Linked DNA regions of Homo sapiens: all the other regions are reported to be linked to region 1. Evidence: microRNA targets listed by miRTarBase, many of them from high-throughput screens and not tested one by one. Region 1 holds a microRNA gene; each other region holds the end of a gene's coding sequence.
What was found. Region 1 holds the annotated microRNA hsa-miR-3150b-3p (UGAGGAGAUCGUCGAGGUUGG, at 1,110-1,130, shown strand). A microRNA usually pairs through its seed, bases 2 to 8, with sites in the 3' UTR of a target mRNA and lowers its output. Matches are read on the target gene's strand: a 7mer-m8 pairs with bases 2 to 8, a 7mer-A1 pairs with bases 2 to 7 and ends in A, and an 8mer does both.

Region 2: miRTarBase lists SUGT1 as a target of hsa-miR-3150b-3p. The part of its 3' UTR that is shown has no 7-base or 8-base seed match.
Region 3: the mRNA of IHH is a reported target of hsa-miR-3150b-3p. Seed matches in the 3' UTR shown: 7mer-m8 at 3,146-3,152 and 7mer-A1 at 2,753-2,759.
Region 4: miRTarBase lists MIGA2 as a target of hsa-miR-3150b-3p. Seed matches in the 3' UTR shown: 7mer-m8 at 2,698-2,704.
Region 5: miRTarBase lists PIGP as a target of hsa-miR-3150b-3p. The part of its 3' UTR that is shown has no 7-base or 8-base seed match.

What each region holds. Positions count from the first base shown.
Region 1 is chr8:95,069,936-95,074,053 of GRCh38, reverse strand. MIR3150B (microRNA 3150b) reads left to right here and starts at 1,058; the gene lies at 1,058-1,143. It overlaps MIR3150BHG (MIR3150B host gene), which reads left to right and starts at 872. Exons shown (of 2, transcript NR_132986.1): 1 at 872-1,125. MIR3150A (microRNA 3150a) reads right to left here and starts at 1,140; the gene lies at 1,061-1,140. It overlaps LOC124901980 (a long non-coding RNA gene), which reads left to right and starts at 1,801. Exons shown (of 2, transcript XR_007061013.1): 1 at 1,801-2,308; 2 at 3,237-3,405. It also overlaps a transcript of NDUFAF6 not described here. RefSeq lists a silencer at 566-665.
Region 2 is chr13:52,687,398-52,691,515 of GRCh38, reverse strand. SUGT1 (SGT1 assembly cochaperone of MIS12 kinetochore complex) reads right to left here. Exons shown (of 13, transcript NM_006704.5): 13 at 1-3,782. The coding sequence ends at 3,681. Among named protein-coding and RNA genes, the nearest start is that of SUGT1, 37 kb to the right of the region's middle.
Region 3 is chr2:219,051,943-219,056,060 of GRCh38, forward strand. IHH (Indian hedgehog signaling molecule) reads right to left here. Exons shown (of 3, transcript NM_002181.4): 3 at 2,482-3,923. The coding sequence ends at 3,265. Among named protein-coding and RNA genes, the nearest start is that of MIR3131, 4.7 kb to the right of the region's middle.
Region 4 is chr9:129,069,678-129,073,795 of GRCh38, reverse strand. MIGA2 (mitoguardin 2) reads right to left here. Exons shown (of 16, transcript NM_001329990.2): 15 at 3,831-3,947; 16 at 1,714-3,549. The coding sequence ends at 3,343. Among named protein-coding and RNA genes, the nearest start is that of DOLPP1, 9.4 kb to the left of the region's middle. RefSeq lists enhancers at 1,053-2,002, 2,003-2,952, 3,900-4,039.
Region 5 is chr21:37,061,954-37,066,071 of GRCh38, forward strand. PIGP (phosphatidylinositol glycan anchor biosynthesis class P) reads right to left here. Exons shown (of 5, transcript NM_153682.3): 5 at 3,421-3,759. The coding sequence ends at 3,629. Among named protein-coding and RNA genes, the nearest start is that of PIGP, 9.1 kb to the right of the region's middle.

The DNA of each region.
Region 1 (4,118 bases):
CTAATTCCAGACATAAATATTTCAGTCTGAATTTCTAAAAATAAGGACTCTATCCTTTAAAAATAAGCACAATGCCATTATCATGCCTTAAAAAATTAACTATGGTTTCTTATATCAAATATCAAGTCAGGTTCAAATTTCCACTAAAGTTTTAAGTTTCCATTAAAAGCAGTTGATTTGAATCAGGATTCAAATTAGGACATCAGGTTGGGATTGGTTGGCAGGTTTTAAAGTCTCTTTTACTCTTTGGGTTTCTCCCCTACCCTCTGGAGAGAGCTCCCCACACCGTGGCTTTGCTGACTGCATTCCTTGGGTGGACTTTCACTTGTGCCTCTGTCCTCGACATGTCCTGTAAGCTGGAAGCCGGGATCAGATTCAGATCCATTTTTATTTTAAGTGTTATGCAAAAAGACACCCAGTGAAGGTGTTAGAATGAGCCATGGCAGTGGATGGGGTTCGCAGGACCCCTGCGGAAGGGGGACGTTTAAGGGGCAAGCGGAAAAGGAGACACCTGGAATGGGGGAGGAGGAGCAGCGGGGCGAGGCGGGGGCGGTGCCGCGTGGTCTGCGAGCCCGGATATTCCCTGGGGAGCGCACCTGCGACTTCACCTCCAGTCCCTCCCCGGCTGGGGCAGCGGGGCGCGGGCGCTCGGGAGAGGTGGCGCTGCCTACTCGGCCTCATCTTGCTGAGAATGCGACGGGGCGACAGCTTCCTGTCTTTTCCAGTGGCTTTTGGCATCCCCAGAGGAAAAAACGGGGAGACCCGCTTTGGCCTCAGGAAGCGCAGAAACACTGTCCTGGCTGCGCGCGCAAGGGCGAGAACCTAGGGGACCCGCCTAAAGCGCCGTTGGGGCTGAGCACCGAACTCGCACAGCTCCGGGCAGCGACCCGCGATGCGGCATCCTTCCGTCCGGTCGGAGCCCTCCTAGCCCTCAGCGCGTCTATTCCTAGCTTCGGTCCCCGCAGCCATATAAGCAATGACACCCTCGCCGACTCGCCTGCCAGCTTGGCCGCCTCCCTGCAGAGGGCTGACGCTTCTCCAGAAGTTGTAAGAAAAGGAGGGAAAGCAGGCCAACCTCGAGGATCTCCCCAGCCTTGGCGTTCAGGTGCTGAGGAGATCGTCGAGGTTGGCCTGCTTCCCCTCACTCCTCGGGCCTTGCTCTTCCCCCAGGTGCCCACTGCCCTCCCTGCTGTGTACCACTTTCTTGCTGCCTGTGAAGGTATTTGTCCTCACTCTTGTGCTGCTCCTTCAATGATAGAACTTTGGGACTTTCTCATCCAGCAGCACCAGCCTGAAAAAGCAGTGGCTTGCACCACCACACACATACCTGGTCTCAGGTGGGTGGATCAGGGCAACTTGGCCACTAGTGCCCCAGTAATGCCCATCTGCCCAACCTCAATGCAGGAGCAACAAGTATTTCTCTGTCTTGGAGAGATCTAGAAAAAGGCTGAACATACCACGAGGGTGTTGCTTCAGAAGAAAATGCTGGTCAGGGTTCCAAGCCATCATAGGAACTTGTGAGCTGAGAAACATGGTCAACTCTACTCTCTCTCTCTTCTCTACCTACCCAGGCAGCCACAAATCTCAGTGTCAGTCACTGCTTTGGTTTGACATCTAAGGGCTCTGTTACAAGGGTAACTAAGATGAGTACCAGTAGATGCCCAATGACACTTGTAAACATGAAAGTGTATACCAGTATAAAGGATGCTGCAGCCTCAGCCTTGAAAAGTAAGGCTTTTAGGGAATGAAACAAAGGATAGTCAGGTTCTTAGGGGACAGGGAGGGTTCTGGCATGGGGAGCAGCCCTGGGCAGGTCTGGGGGTGCTGCGAAGTAGGGCACCGCAACATAACGGCCCTGTGTCTTAGGTGGCCAGGAAGGGGAAGGCAGGAGATACAGAAGGAAAGGAAACTAACATTTTATTGAGACAGGCATTGTGCTGGTCCTGAGGTTTATGCGAAGATTAATTTCTGGGGGTGAGAAGGTAAAAAATGATGAGGTGGAAACCAGCATCTTCTGTTACTCCCATCTGTGCAGAGTTAAAGAAGACTTGAAAGAAGGGGATGTGAGTGGCAGGAAAATCCCCAGTGACCGGCCCTGAACCTTCTGCCAGCGCAGCTCACCTCCTCCCCAAATGCCTCCCAATAGGATCTCAGCCCTAAACAAGCACAGGGCGTGGGGTGGTACAGATGATGATGTAGCTGCTTCTGAGATGCCCCTGGGCGCTGCTGGAGCTGAGCCCTGGGACTGGAATGACTTTTGCCCGCTGCCCTCAAAATTCCCACAGGCCACACCGCTACCACCTCTTGGGTAAAGTAGGAGGGACACATCTCCACCACCATCCAAATTGTTACCTAATGAGGAATTTTGCCAGGAACTACTTACAGCCCAATGGAGCCAGGCTGGGTATTTCCAGGACATGAGCCATTTTCTCTGTGCCCACTAAACAGGGTGCAGGTCCCTGAAGCCCTCAGGGAAGCTGCAAAGGTTACTGGGGTCGGCTCTGGGGCAACAGCTGACCTCTTAGCTCCCACTGCAGGCGTAGGAACCTCCAGGACAGCCTGTGGGGGTGGTGAGTCTGCAAAGCTGGCTGGCTAATGAGGGTGCAGTGCTGGTAGTGTCTGCCTTATGCTTTTTTTTTTTTTTTTTTTTCTTTTGGAGACGGAGTCTCGCTCTATCGCCCAGGCTGGAGTGCAGTGGTGAGATCTCGGCTCACTGCAAACTCCACCTCCCAGGTTCACGCCATTCTCCTGCCTCAGCCTCCCGAGTAGCTGGGACTACAGGCGCCCGCCACAATGCCCGGCTAATTTTTTTTTTTTTTGTATTTTTAGTAGAGACGGGTTTTCACCGTGTTAGCCAGGATGGTCTTGATTTCCTGACCTCGTGATCCGCCCACCTCAGCCTCCCAAAGTGCTGGGATTACAGGCTTGAGCCACCGCGCCCGGCCGGTTGCCTTATGCTTTAATATTAATCATATGGTATGAACACATGCAAAGCTAGCTGGTTTTACTGTTTAGGAAAGTAGATTTAATTTCTATGTGATCTGGATTATCACCATTATTATTTCCTTGGTATAGAAATTGCTTTTTACTGCTTGTGTTTTTCTAAAATTATATTCTCCCTCTGACCAAGGCAAGTAATAAAGGGCAGATGACTCGGGGAGGGGAGGGGAATAGGAAAAAAATCATGGGAGATATGCTTCAAAACCAATAGAGAGTTTTTCTGTTTTTAATTTCAGTTGAATTGCAAAGCAAAGACCCATAGAAGTGAACTGTGATACCAGAAATTCTCTGCCCAGCTTGAAGTTGTTGATATATTATAATCCTTATGTGTGACGTTAATGGTTTTAGTATATATTATCTGCCATCTAGCCTGTTTATTTCAAATATAGCTTCTGAATTCATGGATTTTTATGTGATTTTTGTTTTGTTTTATGTATATCTTTTTAATTTCATAATCCAAAGTGGAAAGAAACTCAACACTCATTTTTAGAAGCTCATTCTCTGAAGTTAGAAGAAGTAAAAATGTGTTTACTTTCTTAAATTTGTTTGATAACCTGAAATCTTAAAGCATCCAAGATGGAAAATATCAAATTTCAAAGCTTAATGTTAGCAATATTCCAAAAGATAAAATCTAGTGACCTGGTTTTCTCTGAAAGTGACACAGTATGTATATAAATAGATTAAAATGGCAAACACATATGTACACTTAGTAAGTGCCAGCCACTATTTTCGGCACTTTACAATTATTAACTAACTTAACCTTCATGATAATTCTAGGAAGTAGGCACTATCACTAGGCCATTTTACAGATGAGAAAATGAAGGCACGGAGAGGTTAAATGTAATAACTTGCTAGTGGTCAATCAGTAGGCAGTAGAGGAGCCAGCATATAAACCCAAGCTGCCCAGCTGCAGAACCACATTCTTGTCCCATATGCTATGCCTCTCAAAAAAGGAGGCCCTCTCCTTGGGACACAAAGGTAATAAAAATGCCTGCCCTGAGCTGTGTCTCTGTCTAGGTACACAGTTCATGAGTGAAGGAGCTCCTGGAGTCATGAATAATGGAAGTCCAGATTGGTCAAGTAACTTGTCCCAGCCCCAGCCTATGCATCTGGTATGT
Region 2 (4,118 bases), not on the chromosome of region 1:
AGGCTGATTAGATGGTAAACTAATATGCAATTTTGCTCTGGGTCAGTGATATATCTCAGATATCAATAATCTAATCTGATATGTAGATAACTGAGGAAGGAATAGAGAAAGGTAAAGTGGGAAAGAAGAGCCAAAAAATATTTAAGTACTGAACTAAATTAAAATTTCTATCTAAATTATTCATAATAGCATTGTGATGTATCTCCATTTTAAATATTTACTTGAAGTTCATAACTGGGCATGGTGGCTCACTCCTGTAATCCCAGCACTTTGGGTAGGCTGAGGCAGGTAGATAACTTGAGCCCAGAAGTTCAAGACCAGCCTGGGCACATGGTGAAACCCGGTTCTACAAAAAAAATACAAAAATTAGCCAGTCGTGGTGATGCATGCCTGTGGTCCCAGCTACTTGGGAGGCTGAGATGGGAGAATCATTTGAGCCTGAAAGATTAAGGCTACAGTGAGCCAAGAATGAAAATGTGGGCCAGGCACAGTGACTCACACCTGTAATCCCAGCACTTTGGGAAGCCGAGGAAAGAGGATTACTTGAGCCTAGGAGTTGGAGGCTACAGTGAGCCATGATCGCACCACTGCACTCCAGCCTAGGTGATAGAAGAAGACCGTGTCTCTAAACAAATTTTTAAAAAAGGAATAAAAATGTTTTTAAAAACTAGAGTTATTAATGCAAGCCATCCTCTTTCTCCATTCCATTTCACTCCCTATAGACAGAAAACAGATTGGCCAGTAAGTGCCAGTGCTAAAGGCTGAGCTTGTTAGTTGGCAGTCAACTCTGAATGGGTATTAAGACATAAGACAGGAAATTATCAAAATTGACCTTGATGTTTCAAACTTGTGGTATAGATATCTAAAGAGATTACTAGATAGCAGAGTTCAAAAAGCAGATTATTCTATTCAAGATTCTTTGAAGACAGTGGGAGAATTCTGGATTCATCAAGGTGCAAATTATTATGGAAATCAGAAGAGATGAAGTCTACAAGACCAAGAAAAACATGTATTCCAGGACTAACCTTAAAAGGGAAAGGAAACATTTAAGAGGAAAAATACATACATTCTGAAGAAACAAAAGGCTACTAATACTAACAGCACTGAGAACCAAAATTTGAGAAATGAAAATTGGAGTCTAGAAACAAAGAGGGAACAATTAATAGCTACATTGAGATAGCAGAGGATAAGGATAGAGTTAAGAGGCTCTTAATCAGAAAGAAGTTTTTTGTTTTAACTTTCTGGAGGCTTACAAGCTTCCATTATCTAGAATGATTAAACAAAGCAGTACTTTAGAGTGGGATTCTTAGGCAGCAATCTAGCCTACTTTTCAAAATTCCCTTGACCTATAATGAATCTAATGTATTTGACAAGGTATGTTTTATAATGCTTTCAGTCATGTGTTTTACAAACTCCCTTCAGACCAGCAAAATCCCAAATCCCACAACACTTAGCAAATCTAGCCAATGGGTAAGCATATTCTAGATAATATATCCTTTAAAACCAACTAAAGATAGTACCAGATTTTTTTTTTTTAAACAGCTATTTATTTTTTTTGAGATGGAGTCGCCCAGGCTGGAGTGCAGTGGCATGATCTTGGCTCACTGCACCCCCTGCCTCCCGGTTCAAGCAATTCTCCCTGCCTGAGCCTCCCAAGTAGCTGGGACTACAGGTGCATGCCACTACACCCAGCTAATTTTTGCATTTTTAGTAGACACAGGGTTTCACCATGTTGGCCAGGCTGGTCTTGAACTCCTGACCTCAGGTGATCTGCCCACCTCCGCCTCCCAAAATGCTGGGATTACAAGCATGAGCTACTGCACCTGGTCAGAAACAGCTATTTTAATAGTGTCATCTTTAAGAAAGAAAAAGTTAAGCGGCAAAAATATGCTTCTGTATTTAGAACCATGGACCTTTAATTATAACTCTAAGACTCTATGGATTATTTACAAAGGAACTAAGAAAGGCCTAAACCTGCTGAAGATTATGAAGGTAGTCAATGACAGAAGACTTGCTAGAGCTAAGCATTCTTGTCTCTGGTATAGTGCTATACGTCCTCAACTATGCCTCTGCAGCAATAGCCTTCCTCTTCATCTTAGGATTAATGGTACTGAGAAAATTTAACATACAGAATACAAAAGTCACTATCCTATTTTCCTAAGAAGAAAACTTTAGAAATCCATCCAACCAAAACTTAATTTTGCCTTTTCCTTCAGTGTTCAAGAAGAAAAAAATGTATCTAGTAGCTCTAAGTGGACAGAAGGACAAGTGAAAACTCTAGAATGCTTAAACAAGCTATAACAACAGGTTTGGGCACCATCTGGTATCACCTTACTGAAACTTTCCTTAGTAACTCCCCTACACCCCACAACAAAGGACGAGAAGGAAGGAGCTGAATTCCTACTGTTTTGGAGGCTGAAATGATGACCCGTTTGCCTCCCACTCCCCCTGCTCTGAGGGTATAGAGTAGTGCTTTGCCATAAAAATGTTAGTGACACCTAACAGAGCTGAGACCAACATCTGGGGTATTACAGTTGAGAAAATCATGGTGAGAAAACAAAGTCAGATCTACAGGTCATCCATAGTCTATACTTTATAACAGCCTAGACTGTAAACAATTTTAATCACAGAACATTTTCCTGTCTCTAAAGTGTATTTATACCGAGTTCAGCATTCAATCTTTCCACAGTTCCTTCATGAATGTTATTTTTTTTCCCTGCTACATTTATAAGCTCTTTGAAGTTAATAATCATGTCTTTAATTTTTTGTATTCTCATGATATCTATATATTCTAGGCACAGAGTAAATACTAAACATATACACATTAATTTACTCTCACAGCAGTTACCATAAACCAATGAAACCAAAGTAATCATGGGGACGTGACAACAGAGATTTTCTAATAAAGAAAAAAAATACCAAAAAACCCACCAATGCTGTAATTTCAAGAATCCTGTCGTGATAAAAGAAGCAAGTGGAGTTGGGCTTTCCTAGAACCTTCTTTGCCCTACCTTCACAGATTATCCTTAGTATAAACTTGCAGTGTGTTAAAACTCAGGTATCTATGTTTTATACAGAAACTTGCAAGGTAACGACCAAAATATCTCAGTGCAATTAAATTTACAAATTCTTCCCATTAAAAGAACTACATGGGAATTCCCTGTGATAATTTCTCAAAGTTCTCATTAAAAACTTAAGAAAAAGGTAAATAAACCAAACATCTTCATAGAAAAATTGTATTTACAACTCCATTCAAAAGCAGTTTTTAAAAGCAAACACAATGTAACACTGAAGGTGAAAAATCTAAGCTCACCCAAAGCTGCCAGGTCTAATAAATTACTGACAGAATACTGTATCAAAAATAAGGCAATAACCGAAAATATACCATTAAAGATTTCTCCATCCCCACAACTAGATAGAATGAATCTATCTAGGAGCAAATGACATGCTTTATTCAGTTTCACCATGTCTGAAACCTTTAAGGACAGAAGTGATAAAATGTTATCTTCATTCTTCATTAGACTTGAACACTTGAAGGAAAATAATTTCTAAAGCACAAAGAGGTAAAGAAGTATAATCTTTCAAAAAGATATTCAGTGTTCAAAATTCAAGAATGCAATATCAATACACAATGGGCATTAGGTGAATATACACAATACGATGAGAGCAAATTAATTTATTTAGTACTTTTTCCATTCCATATCATCAGGAGGATTGATTTCAACTTTCCTTTTACCTACATCAGACCAGTTGGTACTCAAAACTGTACCACCCGACTCCATCTGCAATGAAAAATAAAAATAGATTAATTCCTGGACCATATAATCAAAATAGAATATTTTTCTTAAAATGTTCCAAGCATAGAGCCCCAAATATTGGCTATTATATACAGCTCAATATAAACTCTATGCAATACATATATAATAGATTATACAGATAAAATATATAGCTCAATATAAACTCAAAACAATATTTTTATTTAAACTTAGGCATTCCAGAGGTTAACAAGTTCCATAAAATCTGAAAAGGAAATCCTAAAGTAGTCAGGGAGGTGCACTACATCCTTTGCTAATGAGCATAGATGTGCATGTGGAAAAACTACCTTCAATTGAAAATAT
Region 3 (4,118 bases), not on the chromosome of region 1:
AGAATTGCTTGAACCTAAGGCAGAGGCTGCAGTGAGCCGAGATCTTGCCACTGCACTCCATCCTGGGTGACAGAATGAGACCCTGTCTCAAAAAATAAATAAAATAAAATAAAATAAGCATTGACTATGAGCGAACATCACAGTTCTGGATGCAGCAGCCTTGGGGGCTAAGCTTGGGCCCAAGTGGAGAAGCAGGCATTGGATCTGCACTGCCTGGGTCTGGGTGGTGCAAATGACCCTCCTCTGGGTCTCAGCACTGTACAGAGGATGGGAGAGATTTGGGCCACCACACTGCAGATGTGAAAGATGATCTCCAGACTGTCTCCTTGTTTCTTCATATCTGGGCCCAGAATTCCAGGAAAAGCTGTAGGGTCTCACTCCCACCCCAAATTTGTTCTTTTGAGGGCCTGAATTCGTACAAAGTTCTTTGCTGAATCTTTGCAATCTTTGTCTGAAGAATGAATTTGTTCCCTGAGGAGGCCCATCTAGAACAGAAAGGTCTAAGGACACCAAATGGCTCTGTGTCTGCTGGACCACATGTGCCCAACCCCAGCAGGAGAGGCATCCCCCCACTCCTTCCTCCATGAGCTGGAGAGTCATCTACTGCATGCATCCACACTCACCAACAACTTGTCACCACAATCTGATCTCCCAGGTAGAATGTCTACATGGAGAGAATGTGTGAATGAATGGACAAGAGCATCTTGACCTTGGCCTGTTATTTCTCACTGTGAATGAGTTCATGAACATTTTGGTCCCTGTGAGCCTGGTCAGTAAGAGTCTGCCACAGAGAGATGGGTCCACTCTAGATGTGTTGACAAAGCAGATTTCCAGACCTCAAATGCTGAGTGCGACCTACCAGAGAGAACCTGAGTTCCCCAGGGGAAAAGCTTGGGGATAAAAACAATGGACCCAAGAGCCAGTCTGGAAGGATTCAAATTCTGCTTCTGTCGCTTCTTGTGTACTCCTGGGCAAGTTTCTTAACCTCCCTGTGCCTCTGTGTTCTTTTCTGGAAAGTGGTAATATTAAATAAAGTACACACCACATAGGGTCATTATGAGCACTAAGTGGCCTACTGAGTGTAAAGATCTAGAATAATGCCTAGCAATGGTTAGTCATCAAAAATGATAGCAGTTATCAGTACAGCCAGTGGGGCCCTATTTCTCCAGATGACACAGACCCCAGAATAATGGTTTTCTCTGGCATTTTCTTCAGTGGATGTGAGGACAGGGTAAACTAAGAGTCTGAACAGTCATCCCCACCACTTTCAACACAGACATCTGTGTAAAAGGGCAGAGCCTGGGCAGTGGCACACTTCAACAACTGGCTCCCCAAGGTGGGGGGAAACCCTAATTGGTAGTCTCTGCCAGTTTCCAGAGTTCTATGGCCACTGTGCCTATTTCAACTGACTCACAAAACTCCTGAAAATTTTGTACCACTGGACCTAGAATCTCAGCTTATCTATAGCGAGTATAGAAAAACTTGCCTTGGGATGGAGAGATGGAGGGAAAGTAAAGAAGGGGGTCATGCTGTCTTGGCAGTAAACCAGGCCTCCTCTGGACTAAGCAGCAGTTCTTGAGTGTGGCCCATGGACCATCTGCCATGTTTGGGGTGTTTGCAAAACTAAGCTCCTGGGCTTTGCACTGGATCTATTAAAGTGGAATCCTGGGCCGGGCGTGGTGGCTCCTGCCTGTAATCCCAGCACTTTGGGAGGCTGAGGTGGGTGGATCACAAGGACATGAGATCGAGACCATCCTGGCTAACACGGTGAAACCCCGTCTCCAGTAAAAATACAAATAAAAATTAGCCAGGCATGGTGGCGTGTGCCTGTAGTCCCACCTACTCAGGAGGCTGAGGCAGGAGAATGGTGTGAACCCAGGAGGCAGAGATTGCAGTGAGCCAAGATTGCGCTACTGCACTCCAGCCTGGCCAATAGAGTAAGACTCTGTCTCAAAAAAAAAAAAAAAAAAAAAAGTGGAATCCTGGAAGTGGGGCCAGGAATCATCTTTAAACAAGCTTCCCAGGTGATCCTGACATTTGAGAACTGCTAGATTAGGGATCTCTGACCTGTCCGAGAAGTCAGAATAGCCCACAAGACAACGTGAATTTTACAGAATCTTTTCACACTGTGGTCCATTACCAACAGGGAAGAGTCAGAAGCCCAGGCCCTGAGAGCACAAGGGCATGGTTATAGATGAGTAAGGTGACCATGGACTAGTCAACTCTGTTCTCTCTCGGGTCCATCCTTGTTTGGGGTAAATGGTGAGGTCAGTGTGGGAAGGTCCTGCCCTGTGCAGAGCACAGCTCTCTGTAGGGGCTTTGCAGAGCTACTGGGTGGGAATGGACCTGCAGTGAGGGTGGGAGGCCTGGAGTTTTTGTCCTTGGAGGAAGGTGAGCCAGGCCTCTCCGAGGAGGGGAGAAAACCCTGGACACAACCTTCCAGGGCTCCAAACTATCTGTGAGCATCCTGGACTCTGTGGCTCTAACAACTTAAATAATTTTTATTACAAAAGGAAGAAAAGACCAAAACATCCCCAAAATTCTCCCATGGGCTTCCCCCTCCACTCCAATAAATAAGGTATGGGAGACTGACCGGCGGAGGGGGTGGGGATCATGGTTCAGCAGAAGGGGGAGCTTAGCCGGGGGGGTGGCAAGCACATCCAACCCACCTCCCCCAGTCCCCGGCACTACGGTCACATTGGCCAGAACACAGAACTCTGCCCACAGACAGCAACAGTCTCTGGATGTGTCTTGAGGAGTGTGGCCGGGGAGGAATGTCATACCTCAGAATGGCCGGGATGGCTGCCCCACCCCTGTGGCCTTCCCAGTTCTGGACAGCATCGGGTCCAGCCAGATCCATGCTGGCTCCCAGGGAATTTAGCAGCATCAACTGAGGCGCAAGCCCACCCAAAGGGGCCTAAGATGGATGGAATGGGCCCTCCCCAATGGGGGAGGCAGAGTATGAAAACTCGTAGTGAGAGCAGGCTGAGTTGGGAGTCGCCGTGCCAGCCTCAAGGTCTCTAGGAGAGAGGGGTCAACAACCATCCCCTCGCCAGCTCAGCTTGCAGCTCTATGACTACACCACGACGGGGGTGGGGGACGCTGGTGTTGCCCAGTCAAGTCTCAATGGTGTATCTTCATGGCAGAGGAGATGGCAGGAGCCAGTGTCCCCCAGCTCAGGTCCCTTCCAGGGCCAGCTCCCTCCTGGCTGAGAGGCTTCTGGACCCAGTACAGCAGTTCCAGGAGGGCAGCGGTGGAGTCCTTTCAGCTCCCTGCCCCGGACATGCCCAGTGGGTGGAAGCTGCCCTCTTCTAGCAGGAGACGCCCCAGGCGGTAGAGCAGCTGGGGGTACCAATGCACACCCTCCCCCGGAGTCCAGCTGCCCCATGCCAAGCTGTGAAAGAGTCTCAGGGGCCAGAAGGCCAACTGAGCCAGGTGGTGGTCAGCCACGGCCGCGAAGCAGGATGCCACCACATCCTCCACCACCAGTGTCCCATGCTTTGTGAGCGGGGCGTAGGCCCCGAGGGCCACGTGTGTAGAGACAGCTGCCACGCGGGCAGGCTGCAGGCCTGGCACCCCAGCCACCAGCACGTACTGGCCAGGCTGCACGTGGCTGGCAAATGTGGCCCGGAAGCGGGCTGCCGGCTCCGTGTGATTGTCAGCCGTAAAGAGCAGGTGAGCGGGTGTGAGTGCCAGGCGGCGTGGGGGGTCCTGAGTCTCGATGACCTGGAAGGCTCTCAGCCTGTGAGGCTCGCGGTCCAGGAAAATGAGCACATCGCTGAAGGTGGGGCTCCCATCCTCCCCCATGGCCAGCACACGGTCTCCCGGCCTCACGGCTGACAAGGCCACACGCGCCCCACTCTCCAGGCGTACCTGGGCTCCGGCAGGGAAGCAGCCGCCCGTCTTGGCTGCGGCCGAGTGCTCTGTGGGAGAAAGGGACATGAAGGTGTTACTGCTGTGCAGCTCAGCCTCCTGGTCACAACGACCCTCCCTTGGCCACCCCAGCCAGCCAGAGCTCCTCTTGCTCCCAGAGAGCCCCCGTCACCATATCCCAGCTCCTGCCCCCCACTTCCTATGCAGGCTTGAACCCATACTTCACTGCCCCCATCCCCTTACTC
Region 4 (4,118 bases), not on the chromosome of region 1:
CTCAGGTGATCCACCCACCTCGGCCTCCCAAACTGCTGGGATTACAAGCATGAGCCACCGTGCCTGGCCCCGAGAATTTTTTTTTTTTTTAGGTGTGATCATGGTATTGTGGTTATTCTGGAGAATGACCTTGTTTTTTTGTTTTTTAAGTTCAGGGGTGCATGTGCAGGATGTGCAGGTTTGTTACATAGGTAAATATGTGCCACAGTGGTTTGCTGCACACATCATCCTGTCGCCTAGGTTTTTTTTTCTCTTTTTTTTTTCGAGATGGAGTTTCGCTCTGTCACTCAGGATGGAGTGAAGTGGTGTGATCTCAGCTCACTGCAACCTCTGCCCACCGGGTTCAAGCACTTCTCGTCCCTCAGCCTCCCAAGCAGCTGAGACTACAGGCACCCGCCACCATGCCTGGCCAAGTTTTTGTATTTTTAGTAGAGACGGGTTTCACCATGTTGGCCAGGCTGGTTGCAAACTCCTGGCCTCAAGTGATCCACCTGCCTCGGCCTCCCAAAGTGCTGGGATTACAGGCGTGAGCCACTGTGTCCAGCAGTCCTATCATCTAGGTATTAAGCCCAGCATCCACTAGCTGTTCTTCCTGATGCTCTCCCTTCTCCCACACCCTGCCCTCCGACAGGCCCCAGTGTGTGTTGTTCCCTGCAGTGTGTCCATGTGTTCTCATCATTCAACTCCCACTTACAAGAATGTGACTACCTTGTTTTTAAGCTCTGCTTAAAGGTTTAAGAGTAAAGTACATGTCTGAAACTTAGGCTAAAGTATTTTGGAAATACATGAAATAAACATGGCAAAATGTTGCCGGGAGCGGTGGCTCACGCCTGTAATCCCAGCACTTTGGGAGGCTGAGGCGGGCGGATCACGAGGTCAGGAGATCGAGACCATCCTGGCTAACACGGTAAAACCTCGTCTCTACTAAAAATACAAAAAAATTAGCTGGGCATGGTGGCATGTGCCTGTAATCCCAGCTACTCGGGAGGCTGAGGCAGGAGAATGGCGTGAACCTGGGAGGCAGAGCTTGCAGTGAGCTGAGATCGTGCCACTGCACTCCAGCCTGAGTGACAGATCGAGACTCTGTCTCAAGAAAAAAAAAAAAAAGTCAAAATGTTAATTACATGACCAGAAGTGTTGGTTTTATATAGTTTTTTCAATTTTTCCATACATTTGAAATTTTTTTTTAAAGTTTCTTTTTTAAAAACCTGTAAAATAAAACTTGTGATTTCCAGCTGCCCATGAAAACTTGTAACGATCCGGCAGGCTTGGACCTGTTCCCAGTGTTCCAGCCCCTCCCCCTGGCTCTCACAGCTTGGGGGGTAACAACCTTTAAGCCTGTGAGTCTGCATCTTGGCCCGGTCCAGTGCCTGCATTTTACAGATGTGGAAACTGAGGGCCAGTGAGAATCGACTTCCCTAAGATGGTGCCTGAGCAGGGTCCACAGCCAGGCTGCCCACCTTGCATCCATGGCCTTGAGCGTGGCACTGGCCGCTCCCCACCCTTCCCCGCGGACCACCGGGGCCCTCCCTGCCTAGGGATGGCTGGATCCTGTCAGGCAGTCAAGTTGCCCCAAGTAGGATCACAGCCCCCACCAGGCTTCTCCTGACCTTTGTCCTCCTGGAACCTTCACCCACGGCACCCCAAAAAGCAGGTGCCCTGCTCTGCCCCAAGAAGCAAACAGCCATGCACATAACCAACAACATGGCAAAGTGGAAGGAAATCGTCTCAATTGTTTATTCGACTCACAGTCAGTGCACACACTCTACCATCCAAAAGTCGAAGCTGTGACAATCGACTGCTACAGGCAGTGCATGGATGTGTAAACAAACACAAATGAAAATGCAAATCAGAGTGGGCGGGGCCAAGGCCCACTGTTACATTCACAGCACAGGGTAAGTGCAAAAGAACAGGATGTCAGGATGGGGGGCGGGGAGCACAGGGTCCTTCCTGCCCTGGAGGCTGCCTCCAGGCATCAGCCTGGGAGGTGGGTTAGTGCCCATGGAACCCTCCTGCCCAGGAAGCTGCCTCCGGGCATCAGCCTGGGAGGCGGGTTAGTGCCCATGGATCCGGTGTCTGGGAAGGGGCCCACAGAAGATGGGCCACACCCAGCATCATCTCCTCTCTGTGGTGCGCCCTCCCATCCCCAGACCCCTTTCCCATTCAGGGGAGAGGGGCCCTGGTCACAGGAGCCAGTCCTCTGACCTCCTGAGTGTGGAAACCCAGGAGGGGAGTGTGTTTCTCCTGCAGGCCTCTCAACCTGGAAAGGGCAGAGCCACAGCAGAACGCGTTGGGGCCACAGACACTCGCTCAGGTGAAGACACTGAGAAGACACTGCCGGGCTGACAGGACCCCGCGGCGGGGGGACGTCGCTGCTAACAGGACTCTCTGCAGGCCCAGGGGAGGCTCTGCCCCCATGAGGCCCCAGGAGCGTTTGTGCGTTGAACTGAAGGCAAAGTGCTGGGCAGTTTCTTGTCCTAATGAAGGTGGGGAAGCTGGTCCGGCCACATACATCCTCTGACCTCCCCCAAGTGGTCCCCGGGCCCACAGGTGACAGGGGCCTGAGCGATCCCTGGTCTGAGCCCCCAGCTCAGAGCCTAGCACCACCCAGGGAGGTCTGGGCTCATGGAAGGGGGATGGGCGGGGGCAGGAGGGCCCAGCCCCACCTCCGCCCGTCTTTGGTGGTGACAGAGGTGGGAGGAGAAAAGACGATCTTTGGTAGGGCGAGGGAATGTCAAAGGACACTGTCAAGGGCCCAGTTCCTGCTCAGAAGAGAGCACAGGAGTGGGAGGCCCACCTCTGCCCCATCTCTGGATGGCCCAGGCCTGCTGCCCACTAAGGTGGCCCCACTCTCCTTCTCTGGAGTTGCAAACTCTCTGAGAAGGCGGTTGAGGTGGGGAGGGCATCAGGACAGGCCAGCTGGATGCTGAGACCATATAGCCACAGGTGGCTTCTAGCTCAGGACACTGTGACCTTCACCACAGGGCTCTAGGCCCCATCCTTCACCTCCACCCTCCCAGCACCCTTGTCAGCAGCCCTGGAGCGATGGGAGGTTTTGGGGTCCCCCACCTGGGGCATCCTGGCTCTGCCTGTCCCAATTCTCCACAACAACCCCCTCTCTCACAGCCTTTCTCTCCCACAGGCCCCACTGGTCCTGGCCTCTGCTTCCCCCAGGAACCGTTCTTCTCCATGGAAATGTCCCCTCTGGGCCTTGGGGACTCCCAGATGATGGGGGTGGGGCAAAGTCAGGGGCAACGGCCCTCAGCCACCACAGCTGTCAGATACCAACCCAGGGAAGGGAGGAGGAGCCTTCTCTCTGCCACCCCCCAGCCCGTGCCGCCTCTACTGCAGCTCCCCCAGGGGCCCATTCTCTCGGGGCAGCGCCCCATTCACGCCTGCGCTGCTGGCCGCGGGCACCCCCAGGTACCCCAGCAATATCTCGCTGCGGCGCCGGGACAGCTGCAGGATGTCGTCTGCCAGCGCGGGCAGTGACGTGTAGCGCACATTGTCCAGGTCGAACATGTCCCTCAGGTACTGCACAATCTGGTGCTGGGGGAGCAGGGCTGGTGTCAGGCCTGGCCCAGCCACTGCCCACCATGATGCCCCCCAGGTTACCTGAAGTCCCCTTGTCCACCACCAGAGCCCCAGCCGGTCCTTTCCATCCCCAGGCTCCTCCCTCCCACTGCTTCCTCTGGACCCATGTGGGTCTGGCTCTGCCCTCTCTCTGGGAGCAGGCCCAGGCCCAGGCCCTCATCCCATTCCTGGCACCTCCCAGGGCGCCTGTGCTCAGGGCAAGGGTCAGGAAAGAACGAGAACTGCTCTCTGTTTACCTTGAAGAAAGCACAGACTTCAGCAAGCTGAGGCTTGGGTCCAAGGAAGCCGAAGGCTAGGACAGGGCTCACATGCTCCGATACGGAGTAGAAATGGGAGATGAAGCCATCAGGCACCTGCGGTGGGCACAAGGCTGAGGGGCCAGGCGGGGCCCAGGTAGGATGAGGGCACCAGGCCCAGGTGTCGCATAAAGGGCTGGGCTTTAGAGGTCGCCCCAGCTCATGTACTTTCCTGCTAGATGACCCTGGGCAGTGACTCAAGCTTTCGAAGCCCATTTTAACTTCTGC
Region 5 (4,118 bases), not on the chromosome of region 1:
TTGGGAGGCTGAGGTGGGAGGATCGCTTGAGCCTGGGAGTTCAAGGCTGCAGTGAGCCATGATGGCACCACTGCATTCCAGCTTTGATCCTGTCTCAAAAATACCAAAAACAAAAAACATCTCAGCTGGAGTTCTGAAAGCAGAGACTGGGACAAAGGCTTGTGTGCAGGCAATTTACTGGGAAAGTGACCACAGAGAGCAGGGCCAAGTGGCAGAGGGTGCAAAACACATCAGACAGACAAGCACGTGGGCTGAGTCCACCACCATCGTGGCAACCGCAGTTCAATCCCATGAGACCTTCTGAGGAGCTCATGGAATGCAGTGCAGAACTGTCTCCTCCGGGCTGAAAGAAGGATGTGTATATCCACTGATACCTCTCCCAGGTTGGGCTCCAGGCTGGTCCTGTGGGTGTTAACCCCTCTCCTTCCAGAGTGTACTATAAGAGGCACCTATGTGGATGTGGTTAAATTTGCATGAACTGTTTGGGGCATCAGTGGCTGGAGTAAGAGGTGAACAGAGAGGCTCTGAAGTGGTTGAAACAGACGTTCAGTCAAAATATTCACCCTTACTGAGTGCAATGCACTGACATATTCTATTCTAGTTCATCACACACACACTAGTGGAGGCCCACTAACCAGTGGTTCTCAAAGTCCGGGGGTCCCAAGACCATATTTCAGGGGGCCTATGAGGTCAAAACTATTTTCCTAATACTGCTGAGATGTTTTGTCTTTTTCATCCTCGTTCTCTCATGACTATGCAGCGGAGCTTTCCAGAGGCTTCGTGACAGGCGCTAATGTCACAGACTGAATGCACAAGCAGATATGAGAAACGGCTGTGTTCCATGAAGCCAGACATTAAAGAGACTTGGAGAAATGTAAAACAATTCTACTTGTCTCACTGAATTTTTTTGTTTTAGAAAATAGTTATTTCTCATGAATATGTTTATGTTAAATTTGTCCTTTTAGAATCAGCTTAGTATTACTACAATGATTTGGGTGAAATGTTTCTGTAACAGAAATTTTGTTTCTCATTATGTGATGAGTTAATTTTATATCTAAAAGGTAACGTATTATTTATAAACAAATATTTAAAAATTTTCTATTTTAATTTTTAAATATATCTACATACACAAAAGGTCTTTGGGGCTCTCACTCTTTACAAGAATAAAGGGGTCCTAAGATCTTAAGAAAAGATAGAGAATTGCTACACTAAACTGATCATGACCCTCAAAAACACTGCTGCCCATAGTTTGCAAAACATTGGTGTTCCTTTCATGACCTGTAAGGACAGAGTGGTTGGAAACCAGAATGAAAAGTTAATTTGAGGCTTAATGTGCAATAGAACACTAGAGTCCATGAAGGTTCTATCCTGACCTATTTCAAACCCGTCTCAGGCCCATCACCTGTCCGAGGGGAAGACAAGGGAATACTGCTGACATGAGCAAGAGTCTCACAGATGGGAGGGAACCGCTCGGATAACTGCTGGCTTTCTCTTCCAAAGCTTACAGCTACTGCCCTGCTTGACCAAAACTCAGTTAAGTCTAATCATGTAAGGGAGTCCAATCATGTAAGGGAGTCCAATCATGTAAGGGAGTCCAATCATGTAAGGGAGTCCAATCATGTAAGGGAGTCATTCTCGACCCTGGCTGCATATTGGAAGCATCTGGAAGATGTTAAAAAATTACCCCTGCCTGTGCTCTACTCCAGACCAATGAATCAACATTTTCTGGAGGTAGGCATAGGCACTGTTTTTTTTTCCCCTTTTTATTGAGGTGTAACTTGCATCAGAAGCAGAAATCTTAATAACTTAATGATTTTTTAAAAACATGTATTACCTCCATGTAACCATAACCACCACCCAGATCAAGATGTAGGGCATTTTCAATTCACCAGCAGGCTCCTTCATGCCTCCTCCTAGATAATACTCTTCTCCAAAGGTAACCATTATTCTAATATTTGCCACCATAGATTAGTTTTTCCTGATTTTGAACTTCAAATAAAGGGAACCACGCAGTAGTTTACTCTTTTGTGTCTGGCTTTTTTTGCCCAATGTTATGGCCATATTAATTCATATTATTAGGTAGAGAAGTAATGCATTCTTGTTTGCATGGCTGTGTAGTGTTCAATTGTAGAAACAGACCATGATTTATTTATCATTCTATACTTGGTGGAGTTCGCTGGTTCCCTTACACTGCTTTTTTTTGTTTCTTTTTTTTTTGAGACGGTTGCCAAGGTAACCGTCTCGCTCTGTTGCTAAGGCTGGAGTGCAGTGGCATGATCTCGGCTCACTGCAATCTCTGCCTCCCAGGCTCAAGCAATTCTCCTGCCTCAGCCTCCCGAGTAGCTGGGATTACAGACGCCTGCCACCACGCCTGACTAATTTTTGTATTTTTAGTAGATATGAGGTTTTGCCATGTTGGCCAGGCTGGTCTCCAACTCCTGACCTCAGGTGATCCAGCTGCCTCAACCTCCCAAAGTGCTGGGATTACAGGCATGAACCACCACATCCAGTCCCCTTATACTGCTCTTAAGTGTGGTGACATGCTCTCACCATAAAATAACAGGAACTGGGACAAACTAGGGAACAGGAAAAGCAGATTCATGTTATCCATCTCATGCTTACTGGGTAAGGATATGGTTATTGTCCCCTTCCCAGCTCCTCCTCTGAATCTATTCTTCATTCACCAATCAGGATGACTTTTAAAAACAGAAATCAGGCCATGTCATTCCTTTCCTTCAAGACTCCCAACAGCTTGATCCTAAAGTGCCTCAAACTCATCACACTTACACTTAAATCCACACTTCCTACACCAGCCTACAAAGCCCTTCACAATCTGGGCCCGGTCTCTCCAGGCTCACCTGGGACCACATTCTCTCTTGTTTGGTATGCTCTATGCCCAATGCCAGTCTTCTCTCTGTTCTTAGGACAAACCAAGTTCCTTCCCACCTTATGGTCTTTGCCTCACCTGCTTTATACTTAGATCCCAACAGCCTCTCTCTGAGAGGCCTTCCTTGACCACCCAATGTGAACTAGTCATCCCTTTGCATTCTAGAATACATTATCTTAATTCTTTGCATAGCACTCATCAAATTATATTTCCTTGTTTATTTGCTTAGTTGCCTCACCCTGCTTCTAAAACTATAAGCTCTTTGAGAGAGAATCTTACCATTACTTCATCCTCAGTGCCTAGAAAAATACCTGGTACACAGTGAGTACTCAACAAATATTTGTGTCTTAGACATGAATCTGATGGCACAAGTACTAACTGTACCCTTCCCAAAAACTAAGGGTTTGAATTCTGGGCCCCTCAGGACAAACAGGAGGAAGGACATCATTGCCCTTTGCAAATTACAATATAAATGCCTCTCTGGAGGAACTTCTTGATTATACTGACATTGATTTTTTTTTTTAAGTCTGCTATATGGGAATGCAATATTGTATTTATTCTATTCATTAACAATACTTGAACATTTACAATATTCATTGAACATAATCTAAGAGAAGGTCAACTTACATTTTTTACTTCTCTATTAATAAGAGAGATGGTCAAATTAATTTATGGTCAAAATTATAATGGCAAAAACTTATAAATAAATACGTGCTTGGTGTTACTATGGTTACACACAGTTCAGTTTTTGGTGTAAAGTTCTTTGGCTGCAAGAAAGAACATTTGGTTTACTTCACTAATAGAAATATCTCTTAAGGCTGGAATGGCCTCCTCTTGGTATTTCTTCTGCTGTTGATTTTTTGCATAGTTATCTGTAAGAAAAGACCAAAAAGCTCTGTTTACCTAAGCAATTTCTTCTACAGTCTCTGTGTCTGATGGAGACCCACCACATAGTTTACTAGGCTGACGTTTGGATAGTGACAAACATCATGTTTAACATAATTAGATGATTACTTAAATCCTCTCTTTAGAAGAAATGTCCCAATTAAAATAAAAACATCCCTGTCTCTACTAAAAACACAAACACACAAAATTAGCCTGGTGAGGTGGCGGGCGCCTGTAGTCCCACCTACTCGGGAGGCTGAGGCAGGAGAACAGCGTGAACCCAGGGGGCGGAGCCTGCAGTGAGCCGAGATTGCGCCATTGCACTCCAGCCTGGGTGACAGAGCGA